2 separate regions of the Homo sapiens genome follow, and region 2 is linked to region 1. Evidence: fine-mapped expression QTL. A gene starts in region 1. The other region holds a variant in brackets. All regions are shown on one strand. Distances are between the middles of the regions.

Evidence for each region. PIP is the estimated chance that this variant, and not a neighbour inherited with it, causes the effect.
Region 2: its variant is fine-mapped to the expression of UBFD1 in fibroblasts (GTEx, PIP 0.92).

Annotation. Positions count from the first base shown.
Region 1 is chr16:23,551,685-23,567,404 of GRCh38, forward strand. UBFD1 (ubiquitin family domain containing 1) reads left to right here and starts at 6,043. Exons shown (of 7, transcript NM_019116.3): 1 at 6,043-6,083; 2 at 6,266-6,595; 3 at 7,784-7,992; 4 at 10,522-10,587; 5 at 10,941-11,046; 6 at 15,303-15,385. The coding sequence starts at 6,059. EARS2 (glutamyl-tRNA synthetase 2, mitochondrial) reads right to left here and starts at 5,666. Exons shown (of 9, transcript NM_001083614.2): 1 at 5,521-5,666; 2 at 465-620. The coding sequence starts at 5,659. RefSeq lists enhancers at 4,351-4,995, 5,356-5,635, 5,640-6,284, 5,826-6,025, 6,285-6,928 and silencers at 6,096-6,185, 6,286-6,465.
Region 2 is chr16:23,487,910-23,495,909 of GRCh38, forward strand. It overlaps GGA2 (golgi associated, gamma adaptin ear containing, ARF binding protein 2), which reads right to left. Exons shown (of 17, transcript NM_015044.4): 2 at 7,785-7,869; 3 at 6,394-6,469; 4 at 5,451-5,549; 5 at 3,768-3,891; 6 at 697-800. Among named protein-coding and RNA genes, the nearest start is that of GGA2, 19 kb to the right of the region's middle. The variant G/T (reference allele first, on the strand shown) is at 4,948.

The DNA.
Region 1 (15,720 bases):
CGAGGCAGGTGGATCACGAGGTCAGGAGGTCAAGATCATCCTTGCTAACACAGTGAAACCCCGTCTCTACTAAAAATACAAAAAAACTTAGCCGGGCGTGGTGGCGGGCGCCTGTAGTTCCAGCTACTTGGAGGCTGAGGCAGAAGAATGGCGTGAACCCGGAAGGCGGAGCTTGCAGTGAGCCGAGATCGCACCACTGCACTCCAGCCTGGGCAACAGAGCAAGACTCTGTCTCAAAAACAATAAATAAATAAAAATAAAGAAACCAGTCTTGGAGCTGTGTTTCAGAGAGCTTCGGCATTTTTTCAGGTGTCATCTGCCACCCCGGGCAGGGCAGTACAAATGTAGCCACTTCTCCAGGAACTCCCCATTTTCCACTCAGAACTCCATGAGAAGACCCACAGGCTCCTTTTCCTGCTTCCTGTTCCTTCCCTGCAGAAAGATCCTTTCTCTGCCAGGCTTACCTGCCCACTCCAGCATGTCCTCAATATTCTCCGCTGCCCCAGGCACAACGCGAGTCTGATCTGTGTCCTCTAGCCTCAGGATGAAGCTCCCCTGGTACTTCTTAGCAAAGATGTAGTTGTACAAGGCAGTGCGGAGGCCACCCAGGTGCAAGAAGCCTGGAGAAGAGAACAGCTCAGATAAGACAGGGAAGATAAGCTAATAGGCCTCAGCAAGGGGCAAGTAAGCACTACTGTGACAGAATGTTGCAATAAATTTAAAAGACCAGCAGGACACATTGGCTCACGCCTGTAATCCTACCACTTTGGGAGGCCAAGGCCGGGGGGATCACTTGAGCCCAGGAGGTTCCTGTAGGTTTTTTAAGACAAGAGTCTCACTCTGTCACCCAAGCTGGAGTGCAGTGGCACAGTCTTGGCTCACTGCAACCTCTGCCTCTTGTGTTTAAGCAATTCTCATGCCCAGCCTCCCGAGTAGCTGGGATTACAGGTGTGTGCCACCACGTCCAGCTACATGTTTGTATTTTTGGTAGAGACAGGCATTCGCCATGTTGGCAAGGCTGGTCTTGAACTCCTGGCCTCAAGTGATCCCCCCAGCCTCGGCCTCCCAAGTGCTGGGATCACAGGCAAGAGCCATCACACCTGGCCAATTTTTGTATTTTTAGTAAAGATAGGATTTTGCCATGGTGGTCAGGCTGATCTCGAACTCCTGACCTCAAGTGATCCATCTGCCTTGGCTTCCCAAAGTGCTGGGATTACAAGCGTGAGCCATTGTGCTTGGCCTGAGTTTGAGATCTGCCTGGGCAACATGGTGAGACCTTGTCTTAGCAAAAAATATAAAAATTTAGCTGGGCATGGTGGTACATGCCTGTGGTTTCAGTTACTGAGGTGGGAGGATCACCTGAGCCTGGGGACGCTGAGGCTGCAGCGAGCCATGATCACGCCTCTGCACTCCAGCCTGGGCAGCAGTAGAGTGAGACTCTGTCTCAAACAAAAAAAATTAAAAATTAAAAAATTTTTTTTCAAAGACTAAGAACTAGTTACCCCTGTGCCCTGTCTCCAGACACATTTAATCCCTCATCCTGAAAATGGAAACCACCCAGGATTTGGAGCATGTCATTTTATTAAAAGGCTCCAATTTTCCCCAACTGCATCCACCACTCTATTTTGATATTTGTCTCAAGGCCAAGTTTCGCCTGAAAGAGAAGCAGAGAGTTATTCATTGAGGCCATATCATGTACATTTAACTTACAGAAATTCAATGATGTGCGCTGGGAAAAAAATTAATTACAAACAAACTAGAAATTTAAAATACTGTACAATCATATTGTGGGCCAGGTGCAGTAGCTCACACCTCTAATCCCAGCACTTTTGGAGGCAGAGGCACGAGGATCACCTGGGTCTCTAAATTTGAGACCAGCCTGGGCAACATTGTGAGATCCTGTCTCTACAAAGAAAAAAAAAATCGGTGGGGCATGGTGGCTCACACCTTTAATCCCAGCACTTTGGGAGGCCGAGGCGGGTGGATCACAAAGTCAGGAGTTTGAGGCCAGCCTGGCCAACATGTTGAAACCCCGTCTCTACTAAAAATACCACAAAAAAAATTAGCTGGGCATGGTGGTGGGCGCCTGTAATCCCAGCTACTTGGGAGGTTGAGGCAGGAGAACTGCTTGAACCCAGGAGACAGAGGTTGCAGTGAGCCGAGATCGCACCATTGCACTCCAGCCTGGGCGACAGGGCGAGACTCCATCTCCAAAAAAAAAAAAAAAATCACATTTTGCATATGCAGTCTATGCAGTGTGCATGACTGTCCACGTCGTACATTTTAAATTTCATCTACTTGAGATTTTTACTTTTTTAAAGAAACAAAATTCATTTTTGAAATTTGAGATGGGGTCTCACTCTTGCCCAGGCTGAAGTCCAGTGGTACAGTCACGGCTCACTGCAGCCTCAACCACCCAGGCTCAATCAATCCTCCCACGTCAGCCTCCCAAGTAGCTGGAACTACAAGTGTACACCACCATGCCCGGCTAATATTTGTTTTTTGGTTTTTTTTTTGCAGAGGCAAGGTCTCACTATGTTGCCCAGGCTGGTCTCAAACTCCTGGGCTCAAGCAATCCTTACACTTCAGCCTCCCAAAGTGCTGGGATTACTGGCATGAGCCACCATGCCTTGCCAAGATTTTCACCCTAATTGCTGGCTTTAAACACTAACCAAAAGTAGTGTTTGATTCCACTGTATTTCTCTTCATCAGTTTAAACTCCTAAGATTTGCCTTTTTCATCATTCCTGTCTGAAAACTGAAAGTTAACAGCTTTTCCAGAGTTGTCATTACCTCTTACCGTACCTTCTTCGGACCAGCCCACAGCCCTAAGTCTCCACAATGAGCTCATCTACATTTACAAGTACAAGAGGCAGCAGAGGAGAGAAAAAGCTCTTCTGGGGCCAGGCCGACCCTGCTTCAACACTGATGTGTGTAACCTTCGGATAGTTACTGCAAGGACACCAGAAAACCAGTGGTATTCAGTGGCACTGAGTCCCACGAGTCCCCAAGACAAAAGAGGAACCCAGCTGCTGAAAACAAAGCCTCTTACATCAAGTACACCTGGATTCAAATTCTGCATCCACCATTTATTAGTTGCTACCCCTTGAGAAGGAACTCTACTTAACTTTTATGAGCTTCTATTTCCTCATCTGTCAGAGGGATTAAGAGCAAAAAAATAAGAACCTTCTTTATTATAGGGTTGCTCTGAGGTCTAAATGCTGACCAAAGTAAACCCTCAATTAATTTCAGCTACTGTAATGATCTGTGCCTGATAATTCTTTTATCTGTTTATAGTCAAAAGCCTTTCCCACATGGGCTTTCCCCGCAAATGAGCAAGGAAATGAGAAGTACAATCATCATAATAGAGGCTGTGTATTAAGTGCTTTCTGGGTGTACTAGACCTTACTAAGTGGTTCGGCTGCATGAGCTTAACCCCATAAGACAGATATTATTATTAGCCCCGTTTTGACAAATGGTGAAACTGAGGCTCAGATTCATTAAATAATTTGCACATCTAGGCCAGGTGTGATGGCTCACACCTATAATCCCAGCACTTTCGGAGGCCAAGGCAGGTGGATCACTTGAGCTCAGGAGTTCAAGATCCGCCCAGGCAACATGGCAAAACCCCATCTCTACAAGAAAATACAAAAATTAGCTGGGCGTAGTGGTCACACACTTGTAGTCCCAGCTACTCGGGAGGTTGAGGTGGGAGGATCACTTGAGCCCCGGAGGCTGAGGTTGCAGTGAGCCGAGATTGCACCACTGCACTCCAGCCTGGACGACAGACAGAGCCAAACCCTGTCTCAAAATAACAATAATAATTTGCACATCTAGTAAGTTACACATCTAATAAGTGGCCACGACAGAAATTTGGACCCAGGCAATCCCAGGCTTTGGCATTCTACATAAGTGCTCTTCAAAGCAAAGTGTGCAATCCAGTGCTGGTCTGAAAACAGTTGTCAGTTCACAATCAAGTACAGAAACTGAGAGTAAAGGTTTAGAAACTTTTGTTGTTGTTTTGAGATGGAGTCTCACTCTGTCACCCGGGCTGCAGTGCGGTGGCACGATCTCGGCTCACTGCAACCTCTTTCTCCTGGGTTCAAACGATTTTCAGCCTCCTGAGTAGCTGGGATTACAGGCCTGGGCCACATGCCCGGCTAATTTTTGTATTTTAGTAGAGACAAGGTTTTGCCATATTGGCCAGGCGAAACTTACATAGCAATCTGGCAGAATGATTTTACCTCTGCTAACCCAAATAAAATGAGATTGGTTTGTATTTTGGATGTTTTCAAAATTTTATTTTTCTGGTCATTATATTAATTTTGTGCAAATATTGATACACAATTGATTGGAAATTTAAAACCAGCACTTCCACAACAGATGGTTTGAAAGGCACTGCTCTAGGCTATACTGCCTGCCAGAAAGATCCTGTCATGTATAGCTGGGATTTTACTACAAAGATCTTTGTATGTTCATCCTGGGATTTGGGATGAGAGGCATACTCCGTGTAGAGAACGTAGAAGGTAGCCTTACTGGTGGGAACCAAAAGGCCCTGACGAGATCTCCAACAGGCTATACAATGGGCCTCTGTCACCCTCTAGCTTGCTAAGCTCCCAACAGCACTAGCACAGTGCCTTGGTACCTGCGATTTCCTCTACCCAGAAGGTTCCTTCTTTTTTGTTTTTGAGACACAGTTTCGCTCTTGTTGCCCAGGCTGGAGTGCAATGGCGCGATCTTGGCTCACCGCAATCTCCACCTCCTGCGTTCAAGCGATTCTCCTGCCTCAGCCTCCCAAGTAGCTGGGATTACAGGCATGCGCCACCATGCCCAGATAATTTTGTATTTTTAGTAGAGACAGGGCTTCACCATGTTGGTCAGACGGCTCTCAAGTGATCCACTTGACCTCAAGTGATGCACCCACCTCTGCCTCCCAAAGTGCTGGGATTACAAGCGTGAGCCACCGCGCCTGGCCTCCAGAAGGTTCCTTCTATAGGCTTCACATAGCGTGCTCCTTCTTGTCATTTGGATCTCAGCTCAAATGTTACCTGCTCAGTAAAGCCTTCTGGAGCGTCCTTCTTAATCCCCAGTCTCCTATCCTGTTTCACTTCCCGCATGGCACATGTGACTCTAAAATTACACTTATTTTTTATAAGTGTCTGCGGCAGCCACTAGAATGCAGACTTCCACAGAGCAAGGCCCCTACCTTTCTCAATGATCACTGTATCCCAGCGTCTACAACACCTGTTACACAGGTTGTCATCAATGCACATGTATGGAATGCATGAAAAAAAGATCGAAAGAGATGGGATGGCACAAAAAACACAAGAAACTCCTGGCAATTTGAATTATTTCCGCTCCTGCACCTCAGTTTCCGCCTCTGTAAAATGGGCTCGCGCTGCCTTAACCCTCCTCCGCCCGCCCACTCTGACACCACCGGAAAGGATTCATTCGGGAACATTCGTGGGGCGGAGACGGGACAGGGGGCCTCGGCCTGTAGCGTCACGTCCGCCAGGGTTACCTGTGGGGCTGGGAGCGAACCGCACTCGCACCGCAACCCCGGCATCAGTGCCCAGGTTGGCCTCGCGCCGTCCTACGGGGCGGCCAGAGGCCGCCGAAGGCCTCTCGCGCTGCAGCAGTCTCCTCAGGAGCGCCGCCATGTGGGATGGAATAGCACACGTGGGCTTCTCCCTGCGTCACTTCCGGGGACTGCTTCCAGCCAATCGGCCTCCGCCACAGCCAGCGCAGCCTTGCCCCTTAAAGTCACAGGCCCCCTAGCGCGAAATCCCACGCCCCCCTGGACGGCTGCGGCCGCACTCGCCACCAGGGGGCAGAGGCCAGAGAAAGGGCTATTTCCCGGACCCGCCCCCTTCAGCTTGGGAAAGCGAAAGCGTGGCAGGGGCCGGACCTGGGAGCGGAGGAGGCGGGTCTCCATAGAAACCTCCACCTGTTTCCGGCCGGGCTGTGAGAGATTAGGGGCTGCTGCGGGGGCCAATCTCAGCCAGCTCGCCTCTTCCCAGCGGCCTCTGCGGGAGCGGTGGGTGTTGTACACAATCATCATGGCGGCGGCCGGGGCCCCGGATGGTGAGTGCGGCGGGGGTGGCGGGCGCCGGGCCGGGGCTGAGGTTGCGGTCGCTCCTCTGGGGGATGCGGCCCGGCCCGGGAGGGAGAACCGCGGCTCGGGAACGGAGGTCCGGCGGCGCCCGGACAGCGTCCGTTCCCAAGCCCAGCCCGCGGCGAGCGCCCACCCCCTAACCCCCTTGCAGGCATGGAGGAACCTGGCATGGACACGGAGGCCGAGACTGTGGCTACTGAGGCTCCCGCGCGGCCCGTCAACTGCCTGGAGGCTGAAGCCGCGGCGGGGGCGGCGGCCGAGGACTCCGGCGCCGCACGAGGCAGCCTGCAGCCGGCCCCGGCCCAGCCCCCTGGGGACCCCGCAGCCCAGGCCTCGGTCAGCAACGGCGAAGACGCGGGCGGCGGCGCGGGCAGGGAGCTGGTGGACTTGAAGATCATCTGGAATAAGACCAAGCATGACGTGAAGTTCCCCCTGGACAGCACAGGCTCCGAGCTGAAACAGAAGATCCACTCGATTACAGGTAATTCCTGTGGCGCTGACAGCCAGTCTTCCCCACCCCGCCTCCTGATGGCCCTTGCACCCTACTAGGCACCTGGTGGCTTTCCTTGCATCAGGTCCCCCCATCCTTACAGCAGTCTTCTGAAGGATACTTGGATGCCCATTACTCAGCTGGGGAAAGAGACTCAAGTTTATAGAGCTAGTAAGTTGCAGAGCTGGGATTAAAGCCGAAGTCTGACGTTTAGGCCCCAGTTTCTCATTGATGTTGCTCTAACATCTCTAATTAAAAAATCACCTAAGGCGCTTGTTTTACAGCTTCTGGGCCCTTTCCCAGGAGATTCTGATTCAGTGGGTCTGGGATGTAGCCAGGAATTTATTTTTAGCAAATATCTTAGGTAATTCTTCTAAGTGAAGTTTAGGAAACGCTGCTATTGACTTTGATGCTGGTTCTTCACAGTCGATTCTGTTTCTTAATTTTACCTTGTTCATAGCTCTTTGCCATCTGAGATTTCTTTTCTTTTTCCTATTTTTTTTTTTTTTTGAGACGGAGTCTTGCTCTGTTGCCCAGGCTGGAGTGTACTGGCACCATCTTGGCTCACTGCAGCCTCCGCCTCCCAGGTTCAAGCGATTCTCCTGCCTCAGCCTCCCGAGTAGCTGGGATTACAGGTGCCCGCTACCCCGCCGGGCTAGTTTTTTTTATTTTATCCACCCACCTCGGCCTCCCGAAGTGCTGGGATTACAGGCATAAGCCATCACTCCTGGCCTTGAACTTTTTTTTTTTTTTAAAGCTTTCTACATGTAGCCTTGTAATCTCCATTAAGAACAGGAGTTTTGTCCCTATTGGCTTCTGTAGCTCTGATGCCTGTGGATTCTCACTTAATATGTGAATGATTTAGATGACTGAGGAACAACTTGGAAAGAATGAGAGCTAGTACTTACTGAACAATTATTCAATGCTAGCCACCGTACTAAATGCCCCGCATTGGTCTCTTAATCCTTGAAACAGGTCTGTACAGAAGGACTTACTCTAATAAATCTTCTACAGTTCTAGAAACTGAGGTTCAGAGGTTGTAAATCTCCCAAGTTCACAAAGCTAATAGGTGGTGGAGGCAGTATTCACTTTTTGGTCTGTTACCAAAGAGCTGTGTAGTATCCATACATTTTTCTGTCCTTCCTTCCTTTCACTGTCCACCTTCTACCTTTTCCCAAGGTCTCCCGCCTGCCATGCAGAAAGTCATGTATAAGGGACTCGTCCCCGAGGATAAAACATTGAGAGAAATAAAAGTGACCAGTGGGGCCAAGATCATGGTGGTTGGCTCCACCATCAATGATGTTTTAGCAGTAAACACACCCAAAGATGCTGCGCAGCAGGATGCAAAGGCCGAAGAGAACAAGAAGGAGCCTCTCTGCAGGCAGAAAGTGAGTCCATCTTGTGCTTCTTGGTCTTGAGAAATTTGAGGCTTTGTCCTCTTGAGCCGTGGCTGGTTATATTCTCCCTAGAATAAGCTCCTTTTTGGACAGGGCCCATGATGGAAATTTATGGCAGCAGTTGGGTGCCGCAGAGTGGAGGTGACAACTACCTGAGATTTGCAACTTTGTCTCATCTGGCGGGTCAGTGTGTCTCAAGTCTACCTACTTTAGGATAAGACCTTGGTAAAGGGAGGCTTCAGACCATGTGTTGAAAGGAATCAGACGTGGGTTTCTCTCTCTTATTTAGTGCCAGAGAAAACTACCAGTACTAGAAGTAAGCCCTCATTTTGTACAAGTGCTTACATTTGGCTTTTTGGTTTGTGGCTTTCCCCAAGTCAACAAGCCTGGCTAGGCATGGAAATCAACAACTCTCGGAGGTTCCCCTAAAGCTGACCGTTTCAGGAAGCTAAATGAAGCTGAGTAGGAAGACAACTACACTGATGGATTTGTTTATTTATTTTTTTGTCCTGATCTGTGAAATAGGAGCTTGGTTTTTTACGTTCTCTGTTCTTTTGGCTGCAAGAGATCCTGCCTTGTCTTGTGCTCATCATAGCCATTAACATTCTTTCACGTAACGAGGAAAAGTGAGATTATTTTACTATGGAAGGAACAGGTTGTAAGAATCATTACTTGTTATCTTTTTACCTGGCAAATTATACTGATTGCTGTGTAGCCTCCTGATCGTTCTTCCTAGTGTTCCAAGGAAGACAGGTATTCTCAACTGTGTCTGAAGTAGAGTAGATAAACTTCAATCAACATCATTTAGTGACCATAGACACTAAGATATATGACCAACAGTAAGAAAAGGACACAGTTTGTGTTACAGATCCATAATCCCCCATGTGTGCTTCCAAAACCCCAAAGGAGTATAAAAACGAGAAGTGTTTTTATAAATTTAACAGCAAAACCTGACCAGAATTAGTGTGAATTTTCCTCTTTGGTGACAAGGTACTGCCCCAGACCCCACAGAGAAGATTGTTATGTATTTGAAAGCAATATTATCTTTATAAAAATTCCAAAACCCTGAAAGTTCAAAACTCTAGGGTTTCAGATAAGGGGTTATAAACCTATATTAATTATCTAAAAGGTGTTGATTTGGAGACTTCACCCCCACATATGGGGTCTCAGTGTCTTGAAACCGATTGAGTTTCTTCTCATATTCCTGTTTTTCTTTGCCACATGTATGAAATAGTGAAATGTGAGCACGTCAGATAGGAGTGGTCGCAATGGTCACACCCTTGGAGCATAACATGCCTCCTAAATACAGGTTTTTAGTTACTAATGGTAGCTTAACAGGCTTAGAACTGTTCTCCACAGTACAGGAAATCTTGTTCAAAAGGTACTTGAAAGGTGTGACTCGAATTGTACTTCCAGCCCATGCTGCTGTGTTTCATTGAGGCCAATTATGATGCATCACATGACCTAATGAGAGGGATATAGTCCCTTGCCTTTTTACCAGCTTATTAAGGGGTCTGGGGGTGATGTCTGGAGTGACTTTTTGCTAGCAGTCTGGCAGTGCTGAGTTTATTCCTCCCAGAGGGATTCCACCATGCCAGTGAGGATTTGGGCTGGCTTGTGGCTGCCTAGTGCTTACATTTGATTAAATTGTTACCTTCTATCCATTCATTGTCCCCTAGTTCCAGCCTTCCAAGCAGTGGCTATGCCTATAAGGCCACAGATGGAGAAGAAAGAAGACTCAGGCATTTGGGCCAGGCAGGAGAACTGTTTAAGGGGCCCTGAACTTAGAATCCTTGAAGAGCTGCCTCAGAGTTCTTGGGGCAGGTGGTAGGGGTGGAGTTTAGAGGCTTCTTAATGTCAGGTTATAGAGTAATAAGCATTTCTTTCTGAAAGGTGGCTCTTCCAGGTTCCTGTTTAGCTGGAGTTAAGGGTAGGGCAGTGGGGAAAACTTCGGCGATGGGCTGGGTCTCCATTTGTTGAAGAACTGCTCCTCCTAGGCAGTTAGACGGATTACCAGCATCTTATAGTGTTCTCTGGAAGTTTAAGTTGAAAAAGGTGGGTGCCATTTTTTGTCTGCTAGGAGAGCAACACCCTTTGTCGCCCTCTTTAGTTTGATGGTTTAATCATTTCAGTGGTGATTTTTTTTTTTTTTTTTGAGGGGAGGAGGGCAATCTGGAAATCCCGTTTGCTGTAGAACTTTGATATCTAATATGGTAGCTATCCACATGTGGCTGGTTAAAATGAAATTAAGAATTCAGTTCCTCAGTCATAGTAGCTGCATTTCAAGTGTGTAATAGTCACAGCAGTAGGTAGTGGCTAGCACAGGTACGAACATATTCGCCCTCCCAGAAAGTTCTGCTGGACAGCACTGTGCTATAGTTTCAAAGGATCCATAGTCTGTCGTCATTAAAAGCTTTTGAGCCAAAACACTAAGGCTTTCTTCATCCTCTCTTTCAAGGGAATAGTAACACGACGAAATGTAGTCAGCTGTTTCATTTCATTCTCTCTTCTGACTTATAGCAACACAGGAAAGTGTTGGATAAAGGAAAACCTGAAGATGTGATGCCATCTGTTAAGGGGGCCCAGGTAAGGCGGATTTCTTTGTGAGCATTCTGAAAATGAGGCAGCCCCACCGTCTGACTTGAGGTTCCTCCAATCCTGTCCCTTCTCTTTTTTCCCTGTTTTTTTTTTTTTGAGACAGAGTCTTGCTCTGTCACCCAGGCTGGGGTGTGCCACCACACCTGGCTAATTTTTGTATTTTTAGTAGAGACGGGGTTTTACCATGTTGCCCAGGCTAGTCTCCAACTCCTGACCTCAGGTGATCTGACCGCTTTGGCCTCCCAGTGTGCTGGGATTACAGGCGTGAGCCACCGCGCTTGGCCCCCTTCTCTTTTTTTCTGACTGTCCCTCCATCTCTTACCATTCTCTCGTGCCTTCAGGAGCGCCTGCCAACGGTACCGCTGTCCGGCATGTACAATAAATCTGGAGGAAAAGTGAGACTCACCTTTAAACTAGAACAAGACCAGCTGTGGATTGGCACTAAAGGTATGTTCTTCCTCGCCTCCTTGCTGGCCCACTGCCTGCCTCTGGCACCCAGCAGCACTCACATTTTAGAGTGCGATTTCACCCCTCCTTCTGAAACCTCTCTCTCCACTGTGCTTTGCTTGCTTCTGGCTTTTAAATTTGCTTTTAGATGCTCGCCTTTTGTTTGGACCGTTTTCCCTCATTGTTTTCAGTCTGATCTTAGGGCTGATCCACCAAACAGTGGCTCTTCAGTTGCACACAGATTTGGGGGTCCCAAACACGTGGCCCAAGGGCCAAATCTGGTCCACAGAAAAATGTTTTGTGGGATGACACACAATCTGTAAAAATTGGGAGATTTCACTAATCTGATTTTTTTTTTTTTTTTGGCTTCTCTTGAAAACTCAAATGATCTGGCCCTTTGGGGCCTGCATTCTCACATGGCATCGATCCACTAGAGCCGAGTGGTGGTTTCCAGTGGGCCATACTACAGTCTTCATGGTCCCATTTATCTTAGAAGTAGCCAGCTTTGTTCATTTGTCACCTGCCTGGCCCCTGTAGGTCAGAGTTTGACCCTATAGTAGGTGAAGTTTTCCTAACCGCTGCCGAGGAATCTGCCTCTCCCTCCCCGCCTGGTTGCCCTCTGCCTGCCCCACCCCCGCCTGTGCACGGTGTCTGGATCAGCCTTGCTGTTTGCTGGGAAGTGTCTCTGACTGTCCTCCCTCTCCCTTCCCCCAGATGGTTACAAAGTCTTGTTAGTTACACTGCAGAACTGTCTGTCCCTTTCTTTGCCACACTGTTGTGCCAGTTAAAGTTCCCAAGCATCTTTAAACTTGGTCTGTTCAAAGCGAGTTACCCTGTTTCACTGCCCCATCTGTGTTTTCTTCTGTCCTGTCCATCTTACCTACTGCTTTTTATCCTGGGTACCCGTGCTCAAGGACCTTTGGCTGTTTAAGGACACATTCAAATGCCTAACCATAGCGTTCAGTGTTCTCAACACTGGGCCTTAGTTTAAATTTTGGTTCCAGCTTCTGGCCCGTTTGCCCTGTGGTCCCCTGTGTATTTTAGCCGCATCTCTCTGTGAAGCTCCCAGTGTGCTTTGCACAGCTCCTTGTCTTTGCTCATGCTGTGCCCTTACCTGGAATGCCTTTTTCCCATTCCTTGTTATTAATAAAATCTTCCAAGGCCCTACTTAAATGTCCTCTCTGAATGAAGCCTTCCTTGATTCTCCCCCCACCCTCCAAATGACTTGCTGCCGCTTCTGTTCATAGAGCGCTTCGTTTATATCCCCAGAGCACTCATTACTCTCTGACTTGTCTGTCCCCCTGTTAGATTCCTGGAGGGAACCGAACATGCCTAAATCACCTGTTTCTGACCAGCACTGTAGGTATTCAGTGTTCGAGGTAAATGCTAAAGAGAAGTATAGGGGGTCCCATCATCTGACGTTCACTGGTTTCAGGGACAGACCATTTAGTGAGACTCCACTTAAAATGGGACCAAGTTTTATGGAGAATAATTGGGGCAGGGGTGGTGGGAAGAGAGAGTTTTTAATCATCTAAAACACAAAAATCAGTGTTCAACCCTATACTGATTGTTAAAATGAACAAAAATTGAAATGCCAAAAATGCTTGAGTTTTCTATCAATTTTATGATAACTTGCTATTTTCTTCATTTCACATTCAACTCTAACTGCATGGTCAAAGCAAGTTTTGCAGAATATCTGAGGGTTCCCCCCAGTTTTTGCAAGGGCCTTTGAACCCTCTGCTAGATCATTCTCTTCTGTAGAGCCTGTCCATCTTCCCTTTATCAGTAGTAAGCTGCCCAGCCTCTGTCAACTTTGCAGGTGATTTTGCTTAGTTCTGTCTCATCACATTCACTTGCTGAAGTGCATAGACTTCCTGCCTCTTGCTGGACCTCTACTTTTGCTTGTGGGCAGCCTCATTGAAGGCAGTTGCTACGGCTGACCTGGAAAGACCCTGCCATGAAGATAGGTGCAGGCAGAGAAGTCTGGATGGGAACTAAGTCTGTAAGTGCTCATTGGTTCCTTGGGGAATATTTCTGTGTCAGGAAGTTGTATAGGGAACACATCATAACTGCAGGAACTGACAGAACAAGAACTTCCTGACCCTGTATTGGAAGTTTTCTTTTTGCTAGTAGGAGCAGCCGCCTTCCTGCTTTGGCCTAAAGGGAGAGCTGTAGAAGAAGCTCAATATGTTGGGGCTTCTGAGCCCTTGAAAGCCTCCTTACTCACCAGTCTTGTTGAGGAGCATGGCCATGGACTACTCATGTTTTCTAGGGTTGAACAAGGTTAAGATTTTCATTCCCACCCATAGCACTGTACCTCTGGAGCCCAAGGGGCAGGCAGTCTTGTCACTTGCCCAGTCCTGTTACCTAAGTGTCATAAGCACTCATAAGAGGACAGCTTGTTCTGGGAGTTGGCTGCTAGCCACTGGCTTCGTCTTTCTGCTGGCAAGAAGAAGCGGCTATGGAATGACCATCCCAGCAGCGAGTTGGCCTCTTCGTGGGGCGCTTTGCTGAGTAAGTGACCCTTAAGGGCTGCTACTCTTGACTAAACTCTGCTAGCTTGTGTAGGAGGAGGCAGTTCTAACAGCCTCAAAAGAATGAGAACAAGCTCCAGGCAGGAAACCGGAAGCCGCTGGAGGAGAGCATGTACCCTGCTCGTAGGAAAGTTGAATCTGGCTGAAGGTCTGATGTAGTGATCAGGAGTGTGGGTCCAGAATTGCCCAATTTTTGGAGTTTTCAAGAGAAGCCAGAAATCTGTTGTATATTTTTGTGAAATCTCCAGACATTTCAGGATGAAAGGTGTTTTAAAAGTTTCCATCTTAAAGACAGCTGCTGCCCAGGTCCTGCTTTAGGGCCGACTGTTGTAGAGCCACTAGAAGTCCAAACCTAAATAAACATCTTCAGGTCCCTTCTCCCCAGCCCCCATTTTTCAGATACTGAGGCCCACAGAACTGAAGTAAAATGTCTTAAGTCCCCAGCTAGACCAGAACGCTGGTCTCTAAATTCCTAGTCTGTTTGGCCAACTTATCTATTTTTAGACTCTATCTTTCCAGATTTTTCTTTCTGCAAAGGCTGCAAGTTTTTTTCCACTTGGTTTAGCTGTTTGCTGAGCCTCCCTGCCCCCCTCCCCCTGCGCCCCCGTCCCTGAGGTGTCTGCTGCTCCAGGATGGCCATGTCCCCTTGTGCAGGTGCACCTCGCCTCCCCTGACCTCACCCAGTCCCGCTTCACTTGGCTCACTCCCGGCAGTCTCATCTCACTCCAGGCATCCCTTGCTGCCCCCTTCTCTTACCTGCCATCCTCCTTAAACTCGCCTCAATGTCTTCTGACCCCATGTGATCAGTGGTATCTCAAGTGTTAATCACAAAAGGTTATAAATGTTTTAAGAGAACTTCATAAAAGTGTGTGAATATAGAGTGCGGAGGACTCGAGGAGGGAGGCCGGGGAAGGGAGCAGGGTCGTGGTATAGAATCTAGCCCTAAAATCCAGGCACTCCCCTTCCCTTGTGAGAGCCACAGGGGAACGTGTTGCCTCTTTGTTCGTAGGCCTCTTGACTCTCCCTACTGCCCAAGACCTTAGTCAATGCTGGGCTTGCATAAGGTTACAAAGGAATTTCTTGGGTATTTATTTATTTTATATTTTTTTTTGTTGAGATGGAGTTTCGCTCTTTGGCCCAGGCTGAAGTAAAGTGGCATGATCTCGGCTCACTGCAACTTCTGCCCCCCGGGTTCAAGCGATTCTCGTGCTTCAGCCTCCTGAGTAGCTGGGATTATAGGTGCCCACCACCACGCCTGGCTAATTTTTTGTATTTTTAGTAGAGACGGGGTTTCACCATGCTGGCCAGGCTGGTCTCGAACTCCTGATCTCAGGTGATCCACCCACCTTGGCCAAATCCTGACTCACAAGATGTTAGGATTACAGGCTTGAGCCACCGCGCCTGGCCTTTCTTGGATATTTATTAACCATCAGACTTTTAAAAAATAATCCCAGGGAAGATACAATTCTGCCCTCAGAGACCTTTACTATACCATTGCCAAACCCAGTTTCCCACTTGCTCCTACGGAGTTCCCAGCTCCCACACGAAGCCCTATGTGCACTGGTCAGAAGACCCTGTCGTGTTGTCCCCAGAGGGCATGGCGCCAGTCACTTGAGTTTACTGTAGATCCCGCAGCCACCAGCCCTGATGAGGGACTGCTGAGTCAGAGAAGTTAGAACAGGAGGGCCCTTTGAATAATCACTGTAATCCCTCTCAACTTAGAGCGGACTGAGAAATTGCCCATGGGCTCCATAAAAAATGTGGTCAGTGAACCTATCGAAGGACATGAAGACTACCACATGATGGTAAGTAGCGCTGGCTGAGTTCAGCCCCTCTCACTAGACTCCCACTTCACCTGGCAGGGAACAGTTTTAACTGAGCTTGTTTAACGGAAGAAAACTCAGTCTCCAGAAGATGCACTTTTTTAAGACCCTGATGTTTTCTTCATCTACTTAGAACTTAATCCATGGCCTCTATTCCTAGTTCTGTTTATTTTACACCCCCCCACACACACCTTCCATCAGTTTAAAGGGGATATGTTTTCTCTTACCTCTTTTAGAAAAGTCTCTCTTGCCTCCCTCTTGTCGTGTGTTGTTTCTAGACCAGGAAAATAAATATAAAGAGGAGGAATGGCTTGTGG
Region 2 (8,000 bases), 68 kb before region 1:
TAGACCTTGTGACTGACCAAGAACAGTCATGACCAAAAGCACCGCCAGCACTAGGCCAAAGGGCTCCCCACTCACAGGCACCACAGTTATCCCTGGGTCTTGGCCACCTTCTTCTTCTTGTCCCTCTAGATACTGATGTCCAAGGAATAACGGTTTGGGGAGTTCATGGTGGATGGAAAATGGATAGGGCCGGGCTCACTGGCACTGAGAAAGAGCTGAAGCAACACACAGCAGCAAGTTCTTCCACTGTCCCCACCCCAACACCACACCCACACAGGACATGACCCATCCATCACCCACACTCCCCACGGGCTATCCTTCTGCACCTTCTTTCCCCCAGGAAGGCTGTGCACAAAAGGGAGAGGGCACAAAGTACCCTTGAAGGAGGAGCAGGAATTATGTCCTGGGCCCAGATCTACACTGGGGTAAGGCAGGATCACAAACAGATCCTACCAAGACCCAGGATGCAGTGTCTGCCTAAGAACCAGGCTGAATCAAAACAGACTGGCCCTTATTAGTTGACTTATCCATGAAGAACGCACCCAAACCTTCTGCTACCTCACTCCTAAGGGCCTGTCTGGAGAGGAGAACCCATGTAACCTGCCCCCCTCCATACTCCGATTCAAGCATCAAAGGGCATTTACAGTGCCTAAGAGAAAAGGTCTGATCAGACACCATGTAGGTCTGTTTCCTTACCTTGGACTTTTCTTCATCAGCATCAAAGATGGAGCTCTTGGGCCAGGGAGATGGTGGGGGTAAGATTTTATCCACTGGTAGTTTAGGGTCTTGTTTTATAATTCCTAAAAATGCAATTTACAAAGTTAAGACACCGATATGGTACCCAGAAACTTCAGTCAGAATCCAGTATAAAGTCTGGAAACCCCTGGTTCCTAATACCATGCTAGCAAAGCACTGTCAACAGCCTTCAAAGACAACACCCAGTGTATGAACGAAGTTTTGCATCATCTCTTAGGAGAATCCAAGGGACCATGGTGGCCGGGACAGCAGAGCCAACTATGTCAGAGAAGAGCCAGTCCTGAAGGCCTGCAGTCTGTGGGCCTTATGCTGTAAAAGCATGGATCAGTTTATCCAGCTACATAACCTCCCAGGGATCAAAAGTTTCTGGAGGGTCCCTGATGAAGCTCCTGAAAATGCTGAGTGTATGTGACAGGGAACAACAGTCCATCCTGAACCTGAGTTCCTTCTTTTAAGAGCCCAACATAAAAAGGAATTCAGATTCCCATCTTCCAAACAGGACACACAAAGGTGGGAACTATCACCCCCATCGTGACAACAACAAAACACTGGAAAGTGTGCAAATTCACAATATTTTTGTTGTTTTTGAGACAGATTCTTGCTCTGTCTCCCAGGCTAGAATGCAGTGGTGTGATCATGGCTCGCTGCAGCCTCAAACTCCTAAGGTCAAGCAGTCCTCTCACCTTGGCCTCCCAAGTAGCTGGGACTACAGGTGGGCACCACCACACCCAGGTAATTTTTTTAAAAAATTTTTTGTAGAGATGGGGGTCTCGCTATGTTGCCCAGGCTGGTCTCAAACTCCTGGCCTCAAGTGATTCCTCACCTCAAACTCCCAAAGTGCTGGGATCACAGGCGTGAGCCACCATGCCCAGCCTACAGCTTCCCTGAATACATCAGAGAGCCCAGATCACAGGGCAACAACCAAGTAACCTGAAATCTAAGGAAAAAAACAACCTCCAAGGATTGACAAAAGGCAATACCAATAGTAACAACTAAGCTAGAATTATTTAAAAATTGTCTACAGGCCAGTGTGAGCTACCAAGAGAATACAGAATTTCTGGAGGCTGCAACAAAAAGAAAATAAGCTCTTCTCCAGAGGCTCACGAAAACAGCGGGAAGGCCTGAAGGCGGGATTAGGGGGAGAAGAGTAACAAACCCTGCAGCCTTAGAGCACCGGTGGAACCCACTGCAGCTAGAGAAAAAACAGGGGAGAAAAAACAAAAACAAACCCTAGTACCCTTGGAGGAGGAGCAGGAATTATGTCCTGGGCCCAGATCTACACTGGGGTGAGGCAGGATCACAAACAGATCCTACCAAGACCCAGGATGCAGTGCCTGCCTAAGAACCAGGCTGAATCAGAACAGAGACTGGCCCTGCCCGCCACCCTATCCCTCTGACAAGGGATGGCTGTCTACTGCTACGAGTGGCAAGAACAAGGAGAAAGGCTCTCTCTGAGGTGCAGAGGAAAGTGAAGACCTACAGCTGAGAGAACAGATACTGAAGAAAACTAACAAACTAGCTAGCCCCCAACCTAAACATCAGCTAACACTAGAGGAATCTGAAGTCTGATATAGTAACTACAGCAACAACAAATCTCACACCCAGCTCAAATCCTGTCTACCAAAAGGAAAGCTCTACCCAATTCCAGGGATTAAAAACTCCTTACCTCACTGATGGATATGCCAATTACCCTGATTTGATCACTACACATTGTATGCATGTACCAAAATATCACATTGTACTCCAATAAATGTGTATAAGTATGTGTCAATTAAAAATAAATCCACAGCCGGGAGCGGTGGCTCACGCCTGTAATTCCAGCACTTTGGGAGGCTGAGGCAGGCGGATCATTTGAGGTTGGGAGTTTGAGACCAGCCTGAGCAATGTGGTGAAACCCCATCTCTACTAAAAATACAAAAATTAGCCAGGCATGGTGGCAGGTGCCTGTAATCCCAGCTACTCGAGAAGCTGAGGCACAAGAATTACTTGAACCCAGGAGGCGGAGGTTGCAGTGAACAGAGATCGCCCCACTGCACTCCAGCCTGGGCAACAGAGTGAGACTCTGTCTCAAAAGAAAAAAAAAAAAAAGAAGTAAATAAAAATAAATCCACTAAATGATTACTGAAAGATCTTTTGTAACTATAAAATATTTTATGTCTGCACGTTGTTACTTTTATCACAATAGTATTTTTCAAACTCTAGCTCATAGGTAGCATTTATCTGTACTTCATAGTAAGGTTCCACTATTTCAGGAAAAGAGGTTAAAGATGGGCATGGTGGCTCACGCCTGGGAGGCTGTGGGAGGATCATTTGAGCCCAGTAGTTTGAGACCAGCGTGGGTAACATTGCAAGACCCTGTCTCTACAAAAAATACAAATATTTGGTGTAAGTGAGACAGCAAGTGAGACAGAGACAGAGAGAGAGGAAGAGAGTGTGTGTGTTTGTGTGTGTGTGTTGGGGTGTGGGTGGGAGAATAATAATAAATGAAAAAATTAGTTGGGTATGGTGGCACACGCCTGTAGTCCCAGCTGCTTGGGAGACTGAGGCAGGAAAATGGCTGGAGTCCAGAAGGTCGAGGCTACAGTGAGCCATGACTGCACCACTGTGCTCCAGCCTAGGTAACAGGGCAACACCTTGTCTCAAAAAAAAAAAAAAAAAAAAAAACCAAAAGGTTAGTTTTTAGGCAAACAAGTCTTTTAAAAGATAAATAAGTGCTTTAGTGACATAGGTAGCTTGTATTTTGACCTTTTTCATGCTGTGGTTTCCTATGATTTCCAGGCAACAGGGAAAAAAGCAAACCCTACATCATCTTTCCAGGTTTGCACTATGGCTTTTAAAGGTAAGTAGATAAAAGATTTATTGCGTAAAAAAAAAAAAAAAAAACTCTACCTCAGTGTCTATGGTCCTACATAAGAAGTACAGCTTTCAACAAAAAATTATAAGGCAGATGAAAAAGCAAGAAGATACAGGCCTAGTCAAGAGGAAATAAGACACAGTAAGGCAAGTCAGACCTTGTTTCTTCAGCATCTGATAAGCGTCTCGAATCTTGATGTCTTCCGGAAACCAGACTGTCCAACTGAAGAGTATTTCAATGACTCTTCCTTTAACTTTTCCTGTGGCCCAGGACCCCAGGTACTGAAAGTAAAAAGGAAAGAGAATTCTAGAGCTGGAAGGGACTTGGGAGACCGACACTTTAACTAAAGAGGTAGCTGCTGAGGCCCAGAGACACAAGCTCCCAGGCGCGGTATGAGTGTGAGGAGAGACTAGAGGCCACACCATCTGGCGCCCAGCCCCGGAGCCCTTCCTGGGATTCAAGGAATTCATCTCGGCAATACTCACACTAAACCCCACCATGCAAGAGCCTGGGTCAGAGCCTGTTCTACACCACTGGGGACAGTCATTTTTTGCCTTGGACAAGAATATAATAATAAAATTTGGTCTTTGTTTCCGTTCCTGGCACAGAACTTCAAAAATCCTTGGAATTTCCTGAGTCACAAGAGTGTCTTGTTATTCAAGAGACACACTCGCAGGGTGCACCTGAGTTTTCACTAATGACTTACAGTGAGTGCCTAGAGAGCTTCAAGGGCTGGCCACTCCAAAGAGATCAACCTTGTGATCAGAGGGCTGAAACTTTCAGCCCCATCCCCTGACCGGTGCCCCCACATCCCCCCACCTGTGGAGGTGGTGGGGCGGGCAGGGGGGTGTGAACTAGAGATTGAGTTCAACTATGTGGCCAATGATTTGACCGATCATGCCTAGGTAATAAAACCTAGTGCTAGTTCAAGCCAGCAATGATGTGTAAAAAAACAAAACAAAACAAAAAAACCTCAGATGAAAACACTGAAACAAGGAAGCTCAGAGAGCCTCTCAGTTGAACCTACGTTGGGAGGATGGCAAGCTCAGAGTCCAGGGGAGGGCACAGCAGCTCTGTCCCCTCTTGCCCCACCAAGACCTTGCCTATGTATCGCTTCCATTTGTATCCTTTACAATAAAACAGGGATAGAAAGTATAGTGCTTTCCTGTGTACGTGAATCATTCTAGGGAATTATGGAATATGGGGCGGTGGGGGTCATAGGAACCCCTGAATCTGCAGCTGGGGATGCAGAAGTGCAGCAGCTTGAGGACACATGAGACTCACGGCTGGCAGCTGAAACACAGGAAGCCTAAGCAGCACTGAGCCCTCACTGCGTG[G/T]GGTCCGGGTAGCATGCAACTCAGGGGAGTGTCAGAACTGAAATGAACTGTAGGACCCATGGCCAGCATCGGCACTGTTGTGGGAACACAACAAGGCAGGGCTCAATGTTGGTTACCTGAGACTGGCTGAGCTAAGACAGGTGCCAGGAGGACAGGTACAGAGGACAAGGCAGGAGGTGATAGGAAACTTTCACGCCACCCCTGGGATCTCTCACTGTCTCTATCAGGAACCTGTGCCTCCAAGCTGGAGTTCCTCATCTCCTCTAGGCCACACGTTCCCCAGGCCTTCTTAAAAGGGAAATGTGAAAATGCTAACAGTGAGGGGCAGGGGTCAGCTAATGAGCAGAGCCTCTTCCTAGAGCTTGGAGAGGAGAGCGCTTCTTTCACAGGCAGGAGCAGGTTTTGTCCATGCGTGGGCCTGCCTCTGGCCTGAGGAGGGAGCCAGGAGTTTGACAGTGGGCGTAGGTGCGACACAGTCAGCAGAGCCAAGCCCAGGTACTCACCTTTGGGGACAACACTTTGATCAGTTCGTTCAGGAAACGAAATTTGGCCACCTCGCTGTGGAACTTCTCCCCACAGTGGTTCATGCACATCTCCAGCACCTGCACAGACACAGGACCCCCAGGAGAAGGTGGAAAGCCAGTGGTCCCAGGCTCCCCTCCAGGCTGGTAATCACTTGCTGGAGACTGCGCTGGAACCAAGGCTAACCCTGCCTCAAGCCTATGAGGACACTGAAGTTTTGATGAAGAGGACGTTTTCAGATCAAGAAAAAAATGTCCCCTGTTCAATCTTGCTATAACTGCCTGAGGTTTATGCCCAGGAAATAGCTTAGTGAGGTATGTCAAACCCTGAGGTCACCCCACCTTTTAAGGAGACCCTTTGAGAGGAGAAAGTGGCTAAAGAACCAACCCCTCCCCAGAGGCAGAGATCTGGTATCCAGTGCCCAAGACCAGCCGGATGTCACCCACTGGCACTCAAGAGGCAAGCTGAGCCTGCAGACCCCTCCTCTCGTCCATACTGTGGCTTTCAACACTGCAAATTAGTCACCAACATCTAAACACTCAAACATATACAAAGACCTAAACTAGCAACCCTGAGCCCATACTCATACCTGCCAACAGCTAGTGGGCCCTGTGCTAGAACTGCCCTCTCTAGAAAAGGCACATGAACTTGCCAGCCCTGGTCTAAGAAGGGCAAATGAAATAAAACCTTCCTTTCCTTCTCCCACAGTAGACTCAATGCTGCCCTGAAGAAACAGACGAGAAACAGGAGGAAGAAGGGTGGGGACCCTGGCCCAGATCTCCCTCCTCCAACCTGCTGTGAAGGTAAACCTCTCAGGGGACCTCCCTTCTCCAGTGAAAAGGATCTGTGTGGAAGCAAAGCGCCTCTCGGCTCTCTATAGCACAAGGACAGGAAAGGTTAGGCTACAAGGCAAGCCAAACTCACCGTTAAGGCATAAAGAGCTTCCTTCTCTTGCGGAGACTGGATCTTGTGGGCCAGTAGCCAGGGCGCATGTGTGGGGCTACAGGGAAACAAAAAGACCTAGACTCTGGGCGGGCAAAAAGAAACTAACCCGAGTGGCTGAGCATGCTCAGTAAAATCACTTTTCTTCCAGGGGCTGGTGTCCAAAAGCAGAGGTGGAGCGTGCCTGACAAACAGGCCACGCGGGGGCCCTGGAGAGGGCCACCTCGCACCCACCCTGGTTGCACCTACAGCACCCAAGGTCCTCCTCCTGCCCAGGGCACACTGCCCTCCCCTCAGCCAACCCCCAGCCCCCAAACTCCAAGCTGCCAGTCCCAGCCCAGTCCCATGAGTAGCCACAGCAGCACAGGCCCTGTATGGCTGTGATAAATACCTAGGAAATGCTAGAGCAGAAAGTGCGATCAAACTCTGGGTTCAAACTGGCCAAATATGCGACACCACACAGATTAAACATCTGGATGGGCCAGGCACAGTGGCTCACGCCTGTAATCCCAGCACTTTGGGAGGTCAGGGCAGGTGGATCACCTGAGGTCAGGAGTTCGAGACCAGCCTGGCCAACATGGTGAAGCCCCATCTCTACTAAAAAAATACAAAAAATTAGCCAGGCATGGAGGCACGCGCCTGTAATCCCAGCTACTTGGGAGGCTGAGGCAGGAGAACCACTTGAACCCGGGAGGTGGAGGTTGCAGTGAGCTGAGATCGTGCCCTTGCACTCCAGTCTTGAGACACTCTGTCTCAGGAAAAAAAAAAAAAGAAAAGAAAAGAAAACAAAACAAAAACAAAACATCTGGATGACTCACTTGATTCTGATTCTTCAGGTCCTATCCAGATGCTGTGGAAACAGAATTCAATAAAACCTTCCCCTTTTCCTTTTTCTTAAAATTACATTTAAATGGTGGAGAATACACAGATCTCTTTTAATTAGGTAACGTGTCTATAGTCTATCAGTAACATTCAGAGTTCTCCTCAGCATTAGTGTTTTATAACAGTATTTAAAATTAATAACTGCCAGTTGCAAGTGAGCTATCCTGTGTTTTTTTTCCCCCACATGAATTTGCTAATTTTAGAAAAATAATGTTCTCAGGATTATAGGGGAAAATGAGAGAATGAATGCCAGCCTGACTGCATTTCTATTTTTTTGAGACAGAGTCTCTCACTCTGTCACCCAGGCAGGTCTCAAACTCCTGGGCTCAAGCAATCCTCCTGCCTTGGTCTCCCAAACTGTTGGGATTATAGGCATGAGCCACCGATCCTTGCCTAGAGAGCTTAACCCTAAAACAGTCTTGAGAGACAAAGGCCTACACTCAGTGTGGGGTGCCCCCAGAGTCAACTATGTGTGTGAGAAGTTACCTTACCCATTGGGGTCAGTGTTCACCTGCTCACAGAAATTCTGGATAGCTGACCAATCCTGTTCCGACATGCTTGGGTCTGTGGCTTTGTCTGTCAAATAAATAATAAAGTTAGAGAGTACATAATAGGAAGAAATTTACACCCCTCCCCATACACATGGTGGCCAAGAGCTGTCTTATCACAGATCTACAGGATCAGACCAGTGGGCAGACAGCTGGAAG